Regions from separate parts of the Homo sapiens genome. Here region 2 is linked to region 1. A link means that fine-mapping ties the variant in region 1 to the expression of a gene that starts in the linked region. Tissue or cell type: whole blood. Region 1 holds a variant in brackets; the other region holds the start of a gene. All regions are shown on one strand. Distances are from middle to middle.

Region 1 (2,756 bases):
TCAGCATGGAGCTCAGTGGTTGCTGTTTGGTTCTGCAGGCTGGTGGGGAGGCCGCCCATCGTGGTGGGGCATCTGTCCAGCCCCATTGCCACTCAGGGCATCCAAACAGGAGGCACCCGCTGGGAAGGGTCTAAAGATACTCCTTGTGGCCACTGCTACTGTTCACACTTGACTTGTGGAGAAGCGAAGGGCTGAGGGGAGGTTTGTGTACACCCATGTATTTAAAAGTGACTGACTGACTGAAATGAGCACATACCGACATATGCAACATACTAATACCTTCCTGATTTTCGAGACTTTCTAATTACTACAACTAACCTGTTGTGCTCACCTCTGGAATTCAGAAAGAGAGCCACTGCGAGCACTGACCACAAGGGCTGCCTTAGGAAGGAAATGTGTGCTTTCAGGAGTTCTTATTAGGGGAATTTTAAGAGCACAAAAATTTTATTGAACCCACCTTAGTGACAAACAGAAAATGATTTGTTAGATTGTCAGTTGGAAGGGGTTTATTATGACTGCTGGTGAAATAAACAGTGACCAGTTTCTGCCAACATTTATGGAAATAACGTTTCTAGGTTTTAAATGTGAGCCGTAAACTGAAGCTACTTCAGTTAAAAAAAAAAAAATCAATACTTAAACTGTAGGGAAAAGGTGGATTGGTGCCAGAGAAAACATTATTTAATAGTGTCAGAACATGGAACTGCAACACAGTTTGTAGCAAGGCACTGAGAAAAACCCACAACTAATCCTTCATCGCAGCTGTCTGAACTCTTGATCATCTGCCATCCCCCAAACAGTGACTTCTTTTTTTCTGGTGACTCCAGGCCTGAATGACCTAGTGTGGAGAGTTTAAACTATGTACAAGGGAGGAAAGAAAAAAAGGAAAGGAACCTTAAGTAAGCCTCAGCCAAAGGTTTTATGCATTGGACTTCCTGTGCCTGCCCCCAGGGGCAAGACTGATCCCCATGCCTGTGCCCATGACATCTCCCTGAAAGAGGACACCATGACAGCCCGGCTTTGCCTTGACTGACCCACTGCTACCCCAGAAATAAGAATCAAGAGCAGCTATTGTTATCCTTAGAGTGTTTTCCGTCTAGGGCCGGCTCGTGAACAGCCACATATCCTTGCACCTGACACTGTCCCCACACAAATAGCTGGCTTTCGTTGCTTGTTGAATGAATGAGTGAGTTGGCTCTATATCCCCTTGGAGCTGGCCGGTAAGATATTAGTGCCTCATTTTACAAGAAGAGAATAGGAAGGAATTAAGCAATTTGGCCAACAGATACAAGATAGATTCCAGAGTTTTATCTCCCACTTTAGGGTGGCAGCCAGTAGGCCAAACTCCAAAGACCGTTGCTGATGTCTTTTTCTGCCTCCCCTCTTTGGGTTAGTGTGGTATGTACAAGCTCACTCTTGTTGAAAATTAGAAAATAGTTGAAAACAAAAGGTTTTTGTTTTTCTTTTTAAATCACATTAAATGTTTTACATTGCTTATTCTCTATTTTCTATTCTATCCACTGGACAGGGATGTCTTCACCACATTCTAGAAGCTATGTTGTAATGAGCTCTGTTTTCTCAGGTCTGTGAAATTTCTGACATTCATCTAACAAAGTAGAAACTTCAAGCCAGGGAC[T/G]CCTGGATCTCATGCAAGAGGAGTGGTCCTTGCTCTCCATGAGCCAAGAGCTGGCTGAGGTCCTGTCAGGCAGTAGAGGCTCATGCCTCTCCCCCGGAAGATTGTCTTTCAGAGGAGATCTGGAATCCCACTAGGAAAAACATTTGGAATCTGTTTCAAACAGGGACACAAAGCATCTTCAGGCATGACTGTCAACAGCAACTATGCTCCATGCATGCCACTAAAGGGCAGGCAGGAGAAAGAAGAGTAGAAGGAAGCAGGTGGAAAGAGTGAGGAACCAGCCAGCACAAAAAGAAGTCCACGTTATGGAGAGTTGAAACAGCTGTCTGAAGAAGAGGTGGAGGACATGGAGGTCAGCCCAAGAATTCCAGAGGTTATGGTGAAAAAATCTGGACTGAGGAGAGGAGGTGTAGGGAGTAAGAGTTGAGTGTTGATGGATGTCTTAGGTCAGGATCCTTTGAAGCAAGGGAAGTGATGGGGTGCTCTCAAGAGAAGGGGTGTGAGAGAAGCAGGAAGGAGCCAGTAAGGATGTGTCTTCAGTTGGAGACTGACTTCAGCTTGATCTCATGGGAGCTCTGGAGCATGAATCATATCGGAGTTGGTCCCACCTTGAGGAAAGGAGGCCAGCCTTTTGCATTCCCATGACAGCTGGTCATTGGTTATAGGCTGCCCTAGCAGAGTATACCGTGGTCTAACTTCCTGGGTGAGGGAACTCTCAATAGGCCAAGGGCAATTCTCTGCGTTGGAAGGGTACACTTACGTGCTTATGAGCATTTTAACAGCCAACACTCAGGGCAGCTGGAAGACAGGTTCACCTACCTAGCAAAGGGGACCTGGGAGGGGCATCAACAATGTCCACAACATTGGAAGGCTTGGGAGGCATGGATCTGTGGTGGTCATGGATGTAAAAATGGACATAAGGCAGATGGGATTGGTGCTGATGGCGTCTGAGCTGGATTTGCTAGCTGCCCTTCCGTATCTCTTCCAACATGCCCCTCCAACATGCCCGGTGTCCCAGAAGCCTGACCTCTATGGTTCCATTGCCTGGGCTTCTTCACCCTCTGATTTCCAGTTGCCACTGGGACATGCCAACAAGAGATGGCAGGGTGAGACAAGGTCTGGT
Region 2 (2,756 bases), 34 kb before region 1:
CCGAGGAACCAGTTTAAAGGATATGAAATAGACTAGATGTAACAGTGATCACGGATGGACTGCATCCTAAGAGAAAAAAGTGCCATGAAAGACATAATTGGAACAGCTGACATAACCGGAAATGGAACATGATTAAAGTCTTCTATCAGTATTAAATTTCCTAAATTTGATTGTCTGGTAGTTTCATTCTTAGGACATACATACTGAAAGACTAAGGGGTTGGGCACGGTGGCTCACGCCTGTAATCCCAGCACTTTGGGAGGCAGAGGCAGGTAGATCACCTAAGGTCAGGAGTTCAAGAACAGCCTGGCCAACATGGCAAAACCTCATCTCTAGTAAAAAATAGAAAAATTAGCCAGGTATGGTGGTGTGTGCCTATGATCCCAGCTACTCGGGAGGCTAAGGCAGGGAGAATTGCTTGAACCCGGGAGGCGGAGGTTGCAGTGAGCCGAGATCGCGCCACTGCACTCCAGCCTGGGTGACAGGGCGAGACTCCGTCTCAAAAAAAAAAAAAGGAAAAAAAAAAAGAAAAAAAAAAGACTAACGGACAGTGGGCCTGATACATGCAACCTATCTCAAATGAGTCAGAAAAAAATGTAAAGATAGAAATGTGGTATAACGTTAGCAACTTGTGAATCTTGATGAAGGGTATATAGGAACTTTTTGTACTGTTTTTGCAGCTTTCTTGTAAATTATTTCAAGATTTAAAAGTTTAAAGATTTTTTAAAAGTGCTGCCATTAACATTCCATCCATATTTTTTGATGCACACGCGCAAGCTTCTCCAGCATATTCCACCGAATGGTGTTGCAGATTCATAAGGTGTGCACATCTTCAACCTGACTAGCTATACAGTTTACAAAGTGCTGACATCCTTATTAATTTTATTTTTGCACTGTCTTTTTCTCTCACTAAAATTTAAGGTTGGGCAGTGCTATTAAAAGTGCGGCCCTTGGGCCCGCAGCATTAGCCTCATCAGGGTGCTGGTTAAACACACAAATCGTCAGACCTCCACCCCAGACTTTCTGAATCAGAAACTCTGGGGGCACAGCCCAGGAATCTTCGTTTTCACAAACCTCCAAACGAATATAAAGATCGTAGATTATATAGACCGTAGGGCCGATGTATATAATCTATTAGGGCCGCGTCGGCCTTGCAGGCGGGTCTCCAAGTGAATGAGCGGCAGAGTCCCATCATGCGCATCAGCCTGCGTGAACCAGTGCGCAGCGCGCCTTTCCCGGGCACCCTCTAGGTGCTGGCAGCTGGCGCCCAGATCCCCCGGCTGGGTGGGGAGGGGCGGCCGGACGGGGCGGGCCGGAGGCTGGCGTCCCCGCCCCGAAAGCACTGGGCCCGCCGCGTCGCACCGTCCTCTTTCCTTTCCTTCTCCCTCCCCTTTTCCCTTCCTTCGTCCCTTCCTTCCTTCCTTTCGCCGGGCGCGATGGAGCCGGGGCGCCGGGGGGCCGCGGCGCTGCTAGCGCTGCTGTGCGTGGCCTGCGCGCTGCGCGCCGGGCGCGCCCAATACGAACGCTACAGCTTCCGCAGCTTCCCACGGGACGAGCTGATGCCGCTCGAGTCGGCCTACCGGCACGCGCTGGACAAGTACAGCGGCGAGCACTGGGCCGAGAGCGTGGGCTACCTGGAGATCAGCCTGCGGCTGCACCGCTTGCTGCGCGACAGCGAGGCCTTCTGCCACCGCAACTGCAGCGCCGCGCCGCAGCCCGAGCCCGCCGCCGGCCTCGCCAGCTATCCCGAGCTGCGCCTCTTCGGGGGCCTGCTGCGCCGCGCGCACTGCCTCAAGCGCTGCAAGCAGGGCCTGCCAGCCTTCCGCCAGTCCCAGCCCAGCCGCGAGGTGCTGGCGGACTTCCAGCGCCGCGAGCCCTACAAGTTCCTGCAGTTCGCTTACTTCAAGGCAAGTCCGCCTCGCCCCGTCCCAGGCCCCGGCCCCGCCCCTGACCCAGCCTCCAGGCCCTAGCCCCGCCCCTGCGCCCGGGGCCGCGTTGCCCCTCCAGTTCTAGACCTGGCTCCCTCCCATCCAGCCCTGCCAAAGGTCTCCTCCAAGTCCTGTCTCCTTCTTCATCTCAACTAGAGATGAAAATGCCTTTCTTGAAGGGTAACTCTAAGGTAGAGAATACGTACACAGAACGCAGTACAGCGCCAGGCACCCAACAAAGTGCCTGATAAATGTTCTCTGTTATTTGAGGGCAGACGCCTCTTTTCTGTATATACCATTAAAGTCGCCTTTTTTCTCAAGTGAGCGGTGACTTGCGATAATAAAGCAGAAGACCTGAGGAGCCGACAAGTACCTTTTATTTTTATTTTTTGTTGAGACAGGGTCTCACAGTCGCCCAGGCTGGAGTGCAGAGGCGCTATCATGGCTCACTGCAGCCTTGACCTCCTCAGGCTCAGGTGATCCTCCACCTCAGCCTCCTGAGTAGCTGGGATTATAGGCGCGCGCCACCACACCTAGCTAATTTTTTGGTATTTTCTGTAGAGACAGAGTTTCGCCACGTTGCCCAGGCTGATCTCGAACTCCCGGACTCAAGTGATCCTCCCACCTCGCCTCCCAGAGTTCTGGGATTACAGTCGTGAGCCATTGCACCCAGCTGACTAGTTCCTTTTAAAGAGGATGAAATTGAGGCCAGGGAAGGGCAGGGACTCCTTGCAAGGACACATCCCTGCTTAAAGGGGAACTCGTGCACCGTGAGTCATCAGGATTGGCCCTCTCCGCTGTTTCTCTCTTTCATCTAGAATTTAACAC

What was found. PIP is the estimated chance that this variant, and not a neighbour inherited with it, causes the effect.
Region 2: CRTAP starts here. The variant in region 1 is fine-mapped to the expression of CRTAP in whole blood (TOPMed, PIP 0.92).

The regions. Positions count from the first base shown.
Region 1 is chr3:33,146,280-33,149,035 of GRCh38, forward strand. CRTAP (cartilage associated protein) reads left to right here. Exons shown (of 7, transcript NM_006371.5): 7 at 1-1,494. Among named protein-coding and RNA genes, the nearest start is that of CRTAP, 34 kb to the left of the region's middle. The variant T/G (reference allele first, on the strand shown) is at 1,634.
Region 2 is chr3:33,112,642-33,115,397 of GRCh38, forward strand. It overlaps CRTAP (cartilage associated protein), which reads left to right and starts at 1,373. Exons shown (of 7, transcript NM_006371.5): 1 at 1,373-1,907. The coding sequence starts at 1,437. RefSeq lists silencers at 1,203-1,502, 1,943-2,132 and an enhancer at 2,084-2,756.